2 separate regions of the Homo sapiens genome follow, and region 1 is linked to region 2. The links come from fine-mapping of genetic effects on gene expression. Tissue or cell type: breast. Region 2 holds a variant in brackets; the other region holds the start of a gene. All regions are shown on one strand. Distances are between the middles of the regions.

The links. PIP is the estimated chance that this variant, and not a neighbour inherited with it, causes the effect.
Region 1: TARS1-DT starts here. The variant in region 2 is fine-mapped to the expression of TARS1-DT in breast (GTEx, PIP 0.97).

The regions. Positions count from the first base shown.
Region 1 is chr5:33,437,009-33,445,167 of GRCh38, forward strand. TARS1-DT (TARS1 divergent transcript) reads right to left here and starts at 3,626. Exons shown (of 3, transcript XR_001742630.2): 1 at 3,197-3,626. TARS1 (threonyl-tRNA synthetase 1) reads left to right here and starts at 3,957. Exons shown (of 19, transcript NM_152295.5): 1 at 3,957-4,135. The coding sequence starts at 4,079. RefSeq lists enhancers at 3,303-3,890, 3,545-3,854, 3,955-4,144, 4,405-4,464, 4,479-5,065.
Region 2 is chr5:33,581,151-33,589,355 of GRCh38, forward strand. ADAMTS12 (ADAM metallopeptidase with thrombospondin type 1 motif 12) reads right to left here. Exons shown (of 24, transcript NM_030955.4): 18 at 7,449-7,659. Among named protein-coding and RNA genes, the nearest start is that of TARS1, 140 kb to the left of the region's middle. RefSeq lists a silencer at 7,706-7,755. The variant C/T (reference allele first, on the strand shown) is at 4,513.

The sequences.
Region 1 (8,159 bases), 140 kb before region 2:
GCACACGTATGTTTATTGCAGCACTATTCACAATAGCAAAGACTTGGAACCAACCCAAATGTCCAACAATGATAGACTGGATTAAGAAAATATGGCACATATACACCATGGAATACTATGCAGCCATAAAAAATGATGAGTTCATGTCCTTTGTAGGGACATGGATGAAGCTGGAAACCATCATTCTCAGCAAACTATCATAAGGACAAAAAACCAAACACCGCATGTCCTCACTCATAGGTGGGAATTGAACAATGGGAACACCTGGACACTGGAAGGGGAACATCACACACCGGGGCCTGTTGTGGGGTTGGGGGACGGGGGAGGGATAGCATTAGGAGATATAACTAATGTAAATGACGAGTTAATGGGTGCAGCACACCAACATGGCACATGTATACATATGTAACAAACCTGCACGTTGTGCACATGTACCCTAGAACTTAAAGTATAATAAAAATATATTTAAAAAAAGAAACGCCTTCTGCTTTTTCTTTTTGCCATACTTAAATGAGGACTGTTTTTAAAGTTGAAAGAGAACAAAGAGTTAAGAGAAGCTGCTAGAAACAATGTTATATAGCAGTTAAATATAATTGTTAGCCTATCATTTTCTGCATCCAGCAAATTCAGGAATCTTGATCTCTCTGGTTTTCATTATACTTAGTTAAAATTAAGATACAATTCAGGCAAATGTGTCTAATGAGCATAATTAAATTGTTTTACATTAAAAGGTAAGATTAGATCCTATTGATTCTCATTCTAATTTAAATGTGGGGAGTTAGTTTGGTCTATTTAAGCCTATTAAAATTGTACATAACTCCTGGAATATCAAGCACTACTAATAATCTACTCTCATCATAAACTTTCTTCTAGATCTAGTTAGTAAAGGGGTTTTGACTTCTTTTATAATACAAATAAAGAGGTAATTTTCCAAACCTTGCTTGAAAAATTAAGCAAGTTTTGTCTCAACACTCAACATTTATTGAACATCTGCTGTGCGATAGGTTTACATCTTCCAGATGCTGGCAAAAATACACAAAGTGTGCTTTCGTGAAGTTTTCAATCAAGGAGATAAAATATATTTTAAAAAAACTATAAACTTGCAAGGTAGGAGAAGAGCTTAAGCTCAGGAGTTTGAGACAAGTCTGGGTAACATAGTGAGACCTCATGTCTACTAAAAATTAAAAAATATATATATTAGCCGAGCGTGGTGGTGTGCACCTGTAGTCCCAGCTGTTCAGGAGACTGTGGCGAGGGGATCAATTGAGCCTGGGAGATCAAGGCTGCAGTGAGCTGTGATCACACCACTGCACTCCAGCCTGGGCAACAGAGCAAGACTCTGTCTCAAAAATAAATAAATGGATAGATAGATAGAATAAAAAATAAGAAAAAATTAACTGGGTGTGGTGGTGTGTGCCTGCAGTCCTACCTACTTGGGAAGCTGAGGCAGAAGGACTGCTTGAGTACAGCAGTTTGAGTCTGTAGTGAGCTATGATTGTGCCACTGCACTCCAGCCTGGGTAATGGAGCAAGACCTCATCTCAAAGAAAAAAGAAAAGAAAAGGACTATTATTAAAATCAAGGTGTCAGCTAAAGAGCAGTTATATATATATACACACACACACACACACACACACATATGTATATGTGTATACATATATATGTAATCTGCAAATTAGGTAGCTAATATTGCATAACTCTGTTCTCCTAGCACCTTTTCAAGTTACCCTTAGCCTTTGTCAGGACCTCGCTAGACTAGATTCTTTACCTAGAAGGATAGCCCAAACCTTCCTTCCTTCCTTGTCTTTGTTGGGTTCCCAGAGTTTTCCAACAGCGAAACATTAGACAAGGAAGTACTAAAAAAGGTCTCAGTGAATCTCCTGGGTTCTTGACAAAATTCTCCTTTATGTAGAAGAAACCCGCTTGTCCCCTTGTAATCAGGATCAATCACTCTGGACAGAAAAACAACCCCCAATTCTGCCTGTGAGTGTAGCAGTACGTGAAGCCCCACATAGGGTGTACTCTTAGGCCAACTGATCAGAACCATTACTGTGCATATATATATATATAATATATGTATATACATATACGTATGTGTATATGTGTGTGTGTGTGTATATATATATATATATACACATATATAGTAAACTTGCTTAGCTCTAAATACACACATAGTGAAAGAACAAGTTGAACCGGTAAGTTCTACCAAGAACCACATGAAACTACCAGCAGACACTATTGTAAGCGCCAAGGGGACCTTTCTCCTTGGCCCTCTGAGGTTTGGCTGAAAATCACTAACATGAGGAACATTAATAGAAAAAACATACAAATTTACTTAACGTGTATACACAGGAAGAATCACAGCGTGATTACCCACCCCTCAGAGGGCTTCAGAAGCTTGTGGATACAATCCCAGCGACACAGGTTATGATAGGGAGAAGAGGAATTCTGTTGAGGGATTACAAAGGAGAATGAATGTATCAGGAACACATTAATTTGTACAACATCTTGTGAAAGGGTCTGCTCAGGTGTGATTACTACATTCTTGGTCTTACAGGGAGGCAACAAAAACAATTATGTTCCTTGTGATGTGTCTAAACTTTATCCTTTGCTTTGGCAGAGATGGCGTGGGGATTTAGGGGAGTGGGACCTTGAGGCTTCTTCAGTTCAGATGTCAAAACGCCATTATTTGGGGGTATGTTTCTGCGCCTCCAACACTGTTTAACAGGGAGGCTTGTTTCATCCAGTAAGGGAGTCAAGAAATGGTTCCCCGAAGAAAACGATTCTTGAAATCTGACAATAAATGAGGTGTCAAACAGGCAAAAAGTGTGTCGGAATGAGCACGGATGAGGGTAGGGTGGAAAAATCTTGGTACTTAGTCTGTGGGAAGACCTGAGGAAAAAAAGCCACTACAGTTTATAGTTCAGTGTATGGTGGGCGAACGAGATGAAGCCGAAAACTTGGACAATCAGGGATTGTCCAAGAGCAAGGGAAAGCCACCAAAGATTTTTCAGCAGATTGCCGTGATCATATTTGTATTTGAAGACTACAACGATGCTGTATGAAAAATGGATGCACAAAGCCGAATTGGGAAGCTATTGTTCCTGGAAAGTATAACCCTGAAGGCGGAGAGTTGTAGAGAACAGAACTGATGTTTAAAAAGAAAAATCCACAAAACGTGGTGGTGGAGCACGTACCTGAAGTTATGCCTATTGCGCTTCTGATTTCAAATAAGTAATTGTTTTAAATTGCCTACTAACATAAAAAAGCCCAGTCGATTCCAAACACTGGCACCCAGGCGTGAGAATCCATGGTTATTTCCTTGGGTGAGCTTTATTGTATTTTTGCGGGCGCTATGGAAATGCTCCTCCAGGCAGTACAGATCAGCAGCGGCTCGTAGTGAAGAACGTTCAAGGAAGAGTTTGTCCCGGATCAACAGGACATGGGGCTTGGGAAGCCTGGACTGCCATGAGGAAGGTCGATTCACCACTACAGACAGGGAGCCTGAGGCCTGGGTGGTGCCGACAAGTCGGCAGTCACGCCAGGTCAGGAAGCGCCGAAGCCGCGGGAAACCCTGGACTCCATCCCGGGATTTGTCCCCGTGTCGAAGATGGTATCCAGGTCGCCGAAAACTTCCCGGAAGTTTAGACCAAGACCTACTTATTATCTACGGTGTCCGGGAAGGTCCATGATTGTTCCACATAAAGTCAGAAGGGAGGAAAGGCGCACGCGCATTGGGGACTTGACTCTGGAAAGCGTCCAGACCAAGGTCAGCGGAGAGTAGGCATGTAGCTTCTGCAGTTGCTCCTCCTCACCCTCCGCGACCTGATTTCCTAGAAGGGCTCTGTCACCCGAAAAGATTTTCCACTGGCTTAGAGGAGGGAGGGCCCGCCTTCCCCCGTTATCCATTGGCTGCTCGTTCCGCCGCAAGTTGGGGGCGGGGTTAGGGCGCCTTTCGATTGCATCAGCTGGTCCAGCCGAGGCCAAGTCCCGGGCGCTAGCCCACCTCCCACCCGCCTCTTGGCTCCTCTCCTCTAGGCCGTCGCTTTCGGGTTCTCTCATCGCTTCGTCGTTCGCCAATGTTTGAGGAGAAGGCCAGCAGTCCTTCAGGGAAGATGGGAGGCGAGGAGAAGCCGGTGAGCAAACTTGGTGGGACCCAGAGACCAGCCTGGGACTCTAGTGGGTGCAGACGCTACGCTCGCGGCGGGAGCGGGGGGCAGGAAGCAGGAAGCGGCCGGGACCGCGTGGGTCGGAGAAGTGGGGGATGGTGGGACTCCTGGAAAGTCGGAACCCCCTTTGGGAACCATCCATTCATAAATTAGGGTGGGGCCTTGCAGTTCATCTGTGGGTCCATTCTCTTTACAGATGAGGAAACAGACCTTGAGTGAGCGACTTGTTCAGAGCCTCACATCTACAGTAGTTAGACGCGGAGACAGAATCAGAATCTTAGGCTTGAGGCTTCCAAACTTGCGTTTATGGCTTACTGTAAGCGGGAAACACATTGCAGAGCCTTATTTAATCAATCTCCTAAGATCCTGCGGGGGTAAAGAGCTCCATTTTAAGGAAAGGAAAACCGAGTGCCCGAGATCTGACCCAGCTTGTCCAAGTTTGGGTGGTTAAGTATACATTTTGCCCGGCACTGATCTGGGCGGTGCATGTGGGAAGATGAATAGGGCCCAGTTCCCCGACTTTGAGGGCCTCACAGGCTGATGTGTAAGAGACAGGAAAACAGCCCTAGTGCTTTGTGATCAACCTTGTGGTATTACAGAAGAGGAAGTTTAGGAAGGCACTTTAGAATTTAGTTTGGAAGAATGATTTCACCAGGTAAACAGGCAGGACGGGGCTTCCCACGTAAAGGTAGGGAAGGCAGTGAAAAGGGGCACGCAGGTGAATTGTCTTTCGGGTTGTTTGCAAGAGATATGCCAGAAGGGTTAAAGGAACAGTAATCAGAAGGATCTTAGGCAACAAGGATGTTTGAAACTTGTATTCTATACATGAAGGATCTTAAGCAGGAAGATTGTATTTGTAAAAGTCACGCTGGCATTGGGATAGAAGGTTAGGCCACATGCAGAAGGCTGTTGTAATAGTCCAAGTGAGAAGTGGTGACGTCTTCAGCTAAGGGATCCTCTATCCCAAGTCTGTGACAGGACAGTTCACTTAAAAGCCAAATTTTTTTCTTGATTGTCCACTCGAGATTGAATGGAGAAACTGCATACGGGCACATTCTAACTATGTAAATTTAATTCTAGATGATAAATGGTGACTATACGTAGATTTTTTTCACATAAAATGATATTTTTACTGTTTTGTAACTTTTTTTTTTTTTTTTTTTTTTGCTTAATAGAATGTGGTCAACAACTTTCCATGTCCATAAATATTCTCCTGTGCTATTCTTAATTGGACGTGATATGTATGGTTAACACATATGTAATTTTTCCTTCCTGTAATAATTATACAATAGTTAATATTTATTTTGAGTACTAAATACGAGTTTGGCACTGTATTAATGCATTCCATGAATTAACTCATTCAGTCTTCTTTTTTTTGAGACGGAGTCTCGCTCTGTCACTCAGGCTGGAGTGCCGTGGTGCGATCTCGGCTCACTGCAAGCTCCACCTCCCGGGTTCATGCCATTCTCCTGCCTCAGCCACCAGGCCTGGCTAATTTTTTGTATTTTTAGTAGAGACGGGGTTTCACCGTGTTAGCCAGGATGGTCTCGATCTCCTGACCTCGTGATCCGCCCGTCTCGGCCTCCCAAAGTTCTTGGATTACAGGCGTGATCCACCGCGCCCGGCCTCATTCAGTCTTCTTAATAACGCTGTGAAGTGGGTTCTGTTATTATCTCCATTATACAGATGAGAAAGCAGGCGTAGGAACAGTAACTTGCTCAAACCCAGTATCCCCGTTTTTTTCCTTCCTCAAACCCAGTATCCTATAGCCAATACTAATAACCCCTGTGCTGTTCTGAGTGAGTCAGGGACAGATCATTCCTGAGAAAGGTAATTCTGTAGCTTCTCTTCACAATCCGGTTCTGTTTCCCAACTTTTGGGTTGAGATTTTAGATTACTTGTATGTAGATGTACATACCATATATACTCAGGGAAATAGAGAACAGTTGCCTACTCTCTTCCCAGTGTTGTAGAAAAGGGGTCATAGGCCTCAGGGTTCCAGAGAGACCTGTTGTAATTTCCCAGCTCTATTACTTAATGATACAAATGGGCAAGTTACTTCTTTGAGCCAGTGTTCTTGTTTGTAAAATGGAGCCGTATTTAGAACCAGAAAACCTTTGTGGTGATTCCCTCTCTCTCTCTCCCTCTCTCTCTCTCTCTCTCTCTCTCTCTCTCTCTCTCTCTCACTACCCCTGTTCATTTGGCAAATGGTCAAAACCAAAATAATCTTATCAGAAATATAAAACTTATTTTATCATCTTTCCATTTTAAACCTGCACAGACCTGCAATTTTTCTTTCTTTTTTTTTTTTTTTTTGTTGTCGTTGTTGTTGTTGAAATGGAGTCTTGCTCTGTCTCCCAGGCTGGAGTGCAGTGGCGCGATCTCTGCTCACTGCAAGCTCCGCCTCCCGGGTTCCAGCCATTCTCCTGCCTCAGCCTCCCGAGTAGCTGGGACTACAGGCACCCGCCACCACGCCCGGCTAATTTTTTTTGTATTTTTTAGTAGAGACGGGGTTTCACCGTGTTAGCCAGGATGGTCTCGATCTCCTGACCTCGTGATCTGCCCGCCTCGGCCTCCCAAAGTGCTGGGATTACAGGCATGAGCCACCGCGCCCAGCCGCAATTTTTCTTTTTACCCAGTATACTTGATCAGTTACATCACTTCTGCAGTATAACAAAGGCTCTATTGAATCTAAATGAACCTTTAAAGTTTATTAAATCCAGACTTCTGGAGTAGGGGGGATTTTAGCTCAGCATGAAATTAGGAGTCATATTTTAAAATTAGTTTTTTTTTTAATTATACAAGTAACGCATTTTATAGGATTTAAAAGACAATGGCCAAAATGTCCATCAACTGATAAATGGATAAGTAAGCAATGGAATATTATTTGATAATAAAAAGGTACAATGACAAGTATTGATGCATGTTACAACCTGATGATCTTGAAATTATTATGCTAACTAAAAGAAGCCTGTCACAAAAGACCACATAATGTGTGATTCTATTTATATGAAATTCCCAGAATAGGCAAATCTATAGAAACAGAAACTAGGTTAATGGTTGCCAGGGTCTGGAGATGAAGGCAACAGGGAGTAAACTGCTAATGGGTACAAGGTTTCTTTTTGAGGGTGATGAAAATACTCTAAAATTGATGGTAGTGATAGTTGCAAAACAGTGAATACCTAAAAACCATTGAATTGTGTACTTTACATGGGTAACTTGTATGGTATATGAATTGTATCTTAAAACTTAAGAAAACTAAAGGTCACAAACATGCAAACTAATTAAAATCCCTGTTTACATTCCTGGCACAGGATTTATTACTTTAAAACTTTCTATGACTTCACTTGCTTCTAATTGAAGTCTGTATTCCTTATGGTAACTTTTAGTTCTTGCTTCTGTGAGCCTTAGTCTGTCTTACCTTGTATTACTTTCTAAAACAATCCTTCATTAATCAGCCTGGTTTAGTCATTTTTTCTCTCTTTAAATTTTAACATTTCTGACAACAAGCTTATGTGTACACATAGGACACATTTCCTGTATTCTCAGAATCCACCTGTTGAAATGCATTCCATCCTTTAAAACGCTAGTCCTAGCTTATTTGACATCTAATCGTAGCGTTACTACTGTGTTTTCTCCTCCGGGAGTTTCTCACACATGTATGCCTTACTTTCCCTGGAGAGACTAGGTTTACACATGGTAGGGATTGGGCCTTATGTTTGCTTCTTCCATGGCTTTTGTTAGCACTGGTGGAATTCATGGGCACACTTTGCATTCAGTTTTTTTTTTTTTCCCCTGGAAATATGCTTACTGAATCAACTGCGTGCTTCCTTGTGGCCATATGTTTGGTATGTGGTCCAAGTAAACCTGAAGCGAGAGTCACAAGAATAGTTAAAATAAAATAAATGAAATTTGAGGAGTTAAACATCGTTAGTAACTCCTTCCTACTTTTTAAAGACTTGCCTTTATTGTAAGTTGTTAACCTGTCTTT
Region 2 (8,205 bases):
CCTTAGGAGCTGTCAAGCCCTTCAGATGAGATAAATGCAGTACACAACGCCACACTCCAAACCTATCTCAATTGGTAGTTTCAGAATTCTCTAAACCAACTTCAGCTATGATTATCGTATGCCCTTTCCTTGTAATTTTGAACCCTGGACCAGGAAAGCAGCATGTCAACCTGTTAACCTGCTCTTTGGGAGTCATTTTGCCCTCACTTATCACCATCCTGGATACAGGCCTCTTGTCGGGGAACCCACTGAGAAAGAGGTTTGCTGCCCAATTTATCAACTCCACCCACCTGTGGTCCACTGTGGTGGGTGAAAAGGCTCACAATTGGCACTGAGCTGTAGTGCTGAGAAAGGGTTTATTCGAAAACACAGTCGGAGTTTATCAGAGGGTTTGGGCTAAAGGGCTGAGTAGAGAAACAGTGAATACTTTGGGCATTAAAACATTTAATGCACAATCTCAGAAATTTATAAATGAATAATTAGATCTCATACAAACACCAGCTTTGAAAGCAAGCTAAAACACATAGGTATCTGTTTTGGGTTGAATTGTGTCCCTCTCAAAAAAGATATGTCAAAATCCCAATGCCCCCAATCTCAGAATTTGACCTTATTTGGAGAAAGGATCTTTAAAAAGGTAATCAAGTTACAATAAGGTCATTAGGGTGGGCCCTAATGGTATCCACATCAAAAGGGGAATCTGAACACAGAGATCACAGGCAGGTAGAATGTCATGTGAAGATGAAGGCAGAGATTGGAGTGATGCATTTACAAGCCAATGAGCACCAAAGATTGACGTCAAACCACCAGAAGCTGGGGGAAAGGCGTGGAACAATTCATCCTCCCAGCTTTCAGAAGGAATTCACTTTGCCAACACCTTGACCTTGGATTTGTAGCTTCTGCACATGTGAGACAACAAATTCCTGTTGTTTAATCTGCCCAGTTTGTGGTACTTCATTAGGGCAGCCCTCGGGAGCTAAGATAATAAAAAAAAATCAGACCTAGATAATTAAAACAAATCAGACCTGAGGAGGACAATCAACATAGCTCTCAGCTGGTTTTCTGTGAGTAGTTGTTGCAAACAGAGGTGCCCATATCTGTTCCCCAGGAACCCTGGCAGAGCACAGGCTACTGATGCCTGGGAAGAACTGAGATGTTGATGAATGACACTCCACACCAAAAGAGGGAGTGACAAGGTCAGAACATCAGGTGGCCAGCCCCACAGGAGTGCCTGGGACTGGGGAATCCAGAGGGTCAGCGACTCTCAAAAATGCCCCTATCCCTCCATGCTCTCTTCCCTCGGGTGGCAGGGACTTCACATGAGTCTAGCTTTGCTTCCCACTTAGCAATAGACATAGCATTGCCATTTGCTGCCACGTCTTCTATCCCAAGAGCCAGAGAGCTCATTTGTGAACATCGGCATTCGGTCTATTTGGTCACTCTGCATTCCAACACCCCTGTGATGAGCTTTGTACTTTATCGATTCTCAGTACCTTGGTTAAGTGAATGTTTTGTTTGTGTGTTTTTGTCAGGCGCAGGAAGGGCCAGTTAAAGATCTTCCTAGACTCTGTGTGTGTCTGCTTTTAGAGCCTCCACCTCATGTCCCATCAAATATATTCAAATGCATTTCTTGTCTCAAGTGAAACGTAACTTTTGCTATAAAAAACATTTGAAATTATTTTTTTCCATTCCAGTTTTAAAAAATGTTTATGGGTACATAGTAGGTGTATATATTTATGGGGTACATGAGATGTTTTGAAACAGGCATGCAATGTGAAATAAGCACGTCATAGAGAATGGGGTATCCACCCTCTCAAGCTTTTATCCTTCGAGTTACAAACAATCTAATTATACTCTTTAAGTTATTTTAAAATGTGTAATTAAGTTATTATTGACTATAGTCACCTCATTGTACTATCAAATAGTAGGTCTTATTCATTCTTTCTATTTTTTTTTTGTACCCATTAATCATCCCCACCTTCCCTGCAAACTCTCGCTACTGTTTCTAGCCTCTAGTAACTATCCTTCTACTCTCTATGTCCATAAGTTCAATTGTTTTGATTTTTAGAGCCCTAAAATAAGTTAGAACATGCAATGTTTCCCTTTCTGTGCCTGGCTTATTTCACTTCACATAATGATCTCCAGTTTATCCACGTTGTTGCAAATGACTGAATCTCATTCATTCCTATGGCTGAATAGTACTCCACCATGCATATGCACCACATTTTCTTTATCTAGTCGTCTGTTGAGGGACACTTGGGTTGCTTCCAAATCTTAGCTATTGCAAACAGCGCTGCAACAAACATAGGAGTGCAGATATCCCTTTGATAGACTGGTTTCCTTTCTTTTTGGTATATACCCAGCAGTGGGATTGCTGGATCACGTGATAGCTTAACTTTTACGTTTTTGAGGAACCTCCAAACTGCTCTCCACAGTGGTTAAACTATTTACATTCCTACCAACAGTGTACGAGGGTTCCCTTTTCTCCACATCCTCACCAGCATTTGCTTTTGCCGTCTTTTGGATGTAAGCCATTTTAACTGGAATAAAAGTTGTATCTCATTATAGTTTTGATTTGCATTTCTCTGATGATCAACGATATTGAGCACCTTTTCATATGCCTGCTTGCCATTAGTATGCCTTCTTTTGAGAAATGTCTATTGAAATCTTTTGTGAAAGGCTTTATTTTTTTCCTGCGCTTTTGAAGTTATTCACTGAGGGTAACATTTAATTTTGGGGAGGCTCTGATTTCTCAGCAATTGTCATGCATAGTCTGAAATTCCAACAGAATGAGAAAAGCCAGTCTACAAATAATTTCCAAACACAAAACATTTCTTATGAATACTAAGAGCTGTCATATTGCTACACTTTGCAGATATTTGAGATGCAGTATGGCAAAGTGTACATTCAGAGTAGACGCTGTGCTGCCTGCGTTCAAATCCTGGCTCCGTGGTTTAGTGGTTATGTGACCTTGGACAAATTTCTAAATGTTTCTATGCCTCAGTTTCTTCACTTGTATTAATAAAATGGGGCTAAATAAGTCATGGTGAAGATTAAATGTGCTAATACCCATAAAAGTACTTAATAGATACATACATAATACATAGTAATAATACATACAAAATGCTTGGTATGTATTTCCTATTAATATGTAATTAAATATTGATTTCTGATTTTGCAGGGTCCTTTTGTTTTTATAGATGCAATGCATGAGGTTTTTTTTTTCAGGTCTCAAATGTTGTGCAGGCCCTTGAAAAATCTGTAGGCCCCAAGCACTGCGCTTATAGTGTTTCATGCATAAAATGAATGAGCTCCCTGAGCTCAAGGAGAGGATAGGTGAAAACTTAAGGGGCCACAAATCAGTTCCTTCAGCACATTTGGGTACGACTGATTGAACAAGGTTTGCAAAATCAGAGTAGCATGGAAAACAGACTTTTGTCTTCTTGTCTGATAATAATTTAGTGAACACTTACTTTTTACCAGGCACTACGCTAAGTGTTTGCATGAATTATCTTATTCAATTCTTACAATAATCCTATCTTTCTCAGTGACAACAGGCTAAGAGAGAATTAGCACTGGCTCAAGGCCACACAATTAGATTGCCAGGGCTGGAAAACCTAGAAAAATTACCACCTATCATTACTATTAGTCTAATTACTAGGAGAAATAACATGTTGGTTCATAATTGAGCAAACTGAGGTCCTATAAGGAAAAATCATTTTCCTAAGACTGTTCAATATGCAATACAAGTTTATGCAATACAAGTTTATGCAATACAAGGCCAGAACTAAGATGGTTTCTCCATGATCTCAGCCAGGACTCTTCCCACTTCCCTTTCTGCCAAGGATGCACTAGTCAAACATTTATTAAGTACATGGTGGTTATCCATGTATCCATCCATCCATCCATCCATCCATCCATCCATCCATCCATCCCTCCAAGGAAAAAGATGGCATAGGTTTTTACAAAGTATCTGACTAAACCATTGGAGCCATGATTAAAAATCTCATATAATTTTGGCAATTTATTTTAAAGCTCTCATTGGGGGTACCAGGGGTGTCTCTTGAAGAAGAGGTACCCTTCCATCTATCAAAAAGAAAGAATTATGGAACCCACTGGGCTGCCCTTATTGCCCTGGTTGTCTGGATGCACTGGGTTAAACTGAAAGCTTCATCAAAATAACCCTATTATTCTCATGTTTATCATGTTGCTCTCTGCTCCCACGTGTGGCTACAACTTCTAGTTCACCACTTCAATGTCTAGAGCCCTTTTATTGTAAACTGCCTGAAATGCCTTTGGAAAGGAAAACTGTATAAACAAACACACACATCCTGGCTTCTGGAGTGTCCTGTTTGCCACACATACACATTTGAACCCAGGAAGCCATGCTCTAGGGGCTGTGCCCTTCACTACTAGACTGGCTGCCTCTCACAAGGCATGTCCCTGAAATGGTGTATCTGGGAAGTAAGGGAGTCACAGTAACTTTGATACCTGGTCTCTGTTTACAATAGAGTT[C/T]CCTTCTTTACCCTTTAAGTCCACAAAGTAGGATGGGCAAAACCAGGATAAGATTCTTGGTAAAACCTGAGATTGGAGGTGAGAGTCAGGTATCTAGAACATAAGCTTAGAGAAAAGGGGCTGGTCACAGGGGGCAGGAAAGCCTGTCTGGGGCAGCAGGGGAGAGAGCTCCCCTTTCTGATCCCTGCTGGGACAGGGATGAGTGTACCAACCTGGCACGGCTGAGCCCACTCTCTCCTCACTGCTTGAGTTGGTGGAGTGCTTTGATAAGGAAAGGAGCTCATGAATGTACTTCCTCTTTCTTCTCACTTAGTTCAGCCCAGAGAAGGCCATTTTACAGGAGTCTAGAAGGCTGTCAGTTCTTGGGCCTTTTGGATAAGTAACTTTACAGTTTTAGACCATCCAGGGTGATGAAAATGACAAATGCAGATGAAAATGACACAGTGCAGACCAAATGATGGCTGGAGCACTATCCTGCTTCAAATGATGTTGGTCTCCAGACAAAATCTAGATAATAAATACTGCCTGCCAAGAATCACTATGTCACCTCTCTTTAAAAAAAGTATCTGGGCATAGTTAGAATGTCAAAGACATTTCATCATACTCCAGCAAAGTTCATTAGGAGGTTATTAGTAAGAGAGCAGATAGAAGAAAGGAAGACCCATTTGATGAATATTTTGATACTGATTTAACTAAAAGCACTTCCAATGACATCTTCTGAATGAGGGCATTGGCCCAGCCTTTCTGCTCAGCTCTGTCAAGTGGAAGCTAGAAACTGTCCATGTGTGGTCCATTGACTATGCAATGGCCTACATATGGAATCACAGACCCAAGTGCTTCTTACATCATGCCAACTTTTTGGTCTCTTGTTCTCCAGTTAAGACAGGTTACTACGCTTCCCATAAACGTGAACACATTAAGAAGAACTCCTCAGCCAAATCTGTAATTGCAGTCCTCTGAAAAAGCATTAAGATGTTGGCAATTAGTAAATTCTACATGACAAGAATTATTAACAGTTTTGGATGCGGCCAACACATTTTTGGTAAACAGATTTAATAGGCCAGTCACAATACTCCATTCAGCCTTATTTTGACAACACTGTAATTCACAGAAACCTAGGTTGCAGTGGACTAATAAGGCAGGCCAACCAAATGCCGTGATTATACTCTCCCAGGAATAGCAAAAAGAATGTATGGCTTATCACTGATGTGTGTACATACATCTGTGCATGAATCAGTAATACACCCATATTTGTATGTAGGTATATTTCTTTGCATGCATATCTTTATCCTTCCTTTCCTTTTTTCTTTTTCTTTTCTGGATCCCATCTCTCCCACTGGATGGAAGTTCTTACCATCTAGGGACCATATTTTCTGTTTCTTTTTTTTTTTTTAATTTCACCTAGATGCCCAAGAGAACATCCTGTACAGATTCAGAAGGTAAATAAACCTAAACTGTGACATAAGCTAATAAAAGGGAGTCTTGGAAATAAGGTTTCATCAAAGCTGCTGTATTTAAATGAGTGTTTTGCTTTCAAATAGGTATCTTCAGAGATGGTATCTTTGCTTACACAAATTTTAGAATTTTTCTTTCAGAGCAGGTGAAAAGCAATCTGTCACATATTTATCATCAAATATTTTTTAAACACAAAGATTTTGATCACATTATTCATTTATCCATCAGGCCCCATTCTAATTGACTTTCTGTGGCATTCTCCTGAATCAGATATTCTCCATTTTCTCCTGAGTCCTCACAGGAGTTCCTAAAATATCCTGAGCAATGGTGGCATTATTGTTATTATTATTATTTTGAGACAGGGTCTCACTTTCTCACCTAGGCTGGAGTACAGTGGCATGATATCAGCTCACTACAGCCTCGATCTCCCAGTCTCAAGCGATCCTCCTGCCTCAGCCACCCAAGTAGCTGGGACTACAGGCATGTGCCACCATGACTGGCTAATTGTATTTTTCATAGAGATGGTGTTTCATCATGTTGCTTGGGCTGGTCTCAAACTCCTAAGCTCAAGTGATCCTCCTTCCTCGGCCTCCTAAAGTGCTGGGATTACAGGTGCCTGTCCAGTGGTAGCATTATCATGGAAGCATACGGCTTCTCAAGGAAGCTCGTAAGATAAAGTCAGCATCCATCTCTAAACTCTGGCCTGTTAATTTTTAAAAAACATGTATTTTCTAGTTATTCTTAGGTTGTTCACTGAACTGCACATAGAGAAGCAGAGCTGAGGCCCTTGGAGACTTTGGGGCCTTCCACTAATAACTGGGAACATGACAATGCCTGATGAAACCAGATTCCAAAGTGACCCAAAGAAAATTAAAGCCTGAGAGAGCTTTTCATAACCTTCCAGCTTACTGATTTCCAATTATAGTCAGATAATTAGATCAAATTAATTTTGGGAAAATGCAACATTTATCTGAACTTGTGTGTCTGATAATAGATGTTAGAAACCTTGGTCTGGTTTGGACTTGACACATGGTGAATAGATGGATAATTTGAGGGGATTTTTCTCAGTGTCAAGCGACACTCTTTTGGTTTGGGTTAACTACAGTGATGTGCAGTCAATGTTTTATAAACCACTTTTGGGGTGTGTGGGAGGTCCCTTATCTGCTACCAGTGGTTTAACAATGGGCCTGGCCAAGCTTCTGATGATTTATTAACTAGTCTTTGTGATCCTGTACTGGGAGTGGGGGGTCTACCTCACCCCTGTCAGATAGTAAGCTGACCATTGAGCAAGTGGGAGCAAGATCCCCTATGAATGGAAAATAAGTAGTGGACACAGGAAAGGCAGGAGACAGGCCAGGGGTGATGAACACTGGCTATTTTGCAATTTTACCTAGGGTCACTTTGGATTGGATAATGAGAAGGAAGGCAGGGGCTGATGAAGCTTGAATAATGCCAGTTTCCCCGCCGAGCCCTGAGCTCACCTCACTCCAGTTGCCCACTGTCCAGTCCGAGGGGCACAGGATGTCTCTGTTGCAGGAAAGGAGGGTCTTGGGCTTCAGCAGGTGCTGGCAGTCTGTGGGCGGGAGAGCCTGCTCGTCAGAGACCATGGTCTGGATGCACAGCACGGTTCGCTTCTTCTCCCCGTGGGGCCCGCATGTCGCCGAGCATGCTTCCCACTCCCCTGCCCACCACCTGCAGGCAAACATGGATATGTGAGAGAAGATCGCCAACTTACGCATATGTTCCATTCAACCACTGAGAAAGCAGGGGCAGAAATGCAGATCACAGGGCTGGAAGGGCCATGGAGACACTCCAACCCACTAGGGGGCGTGCTGCAGACAGGGCCACCGTGTCTTCAATCATAGCTCCGTAGCTCTGCAGGGCGCCTGGCATGAGCTGTTGCTAAATACGCATGTTTTTGAATGAGAAAAAAATATATATGCATGCCCTCTCTTTTCAGGAAGAAAACTGAGGTCCAGGGTTCTGCTGTGCAACTTTAAGCAAGTTTAAGCCTCGCTTTCTCATTATTCAATGGGTGTGAAAATATATTTTCTTTATATGAGTGTTGTGTTGTACATGAAATGAAAGACCAATTCATGTAATGTGCATAGTACAGAGCCTGACATATAACAAGAACTCAAGCATTTGTTATGATTTATTGTTATTTTGACCATGCTATTGAATAAAAGAGTCCAATTAGACTCTAGGTCTCCTGGCTCTTAATTGAATGTAAAGTAG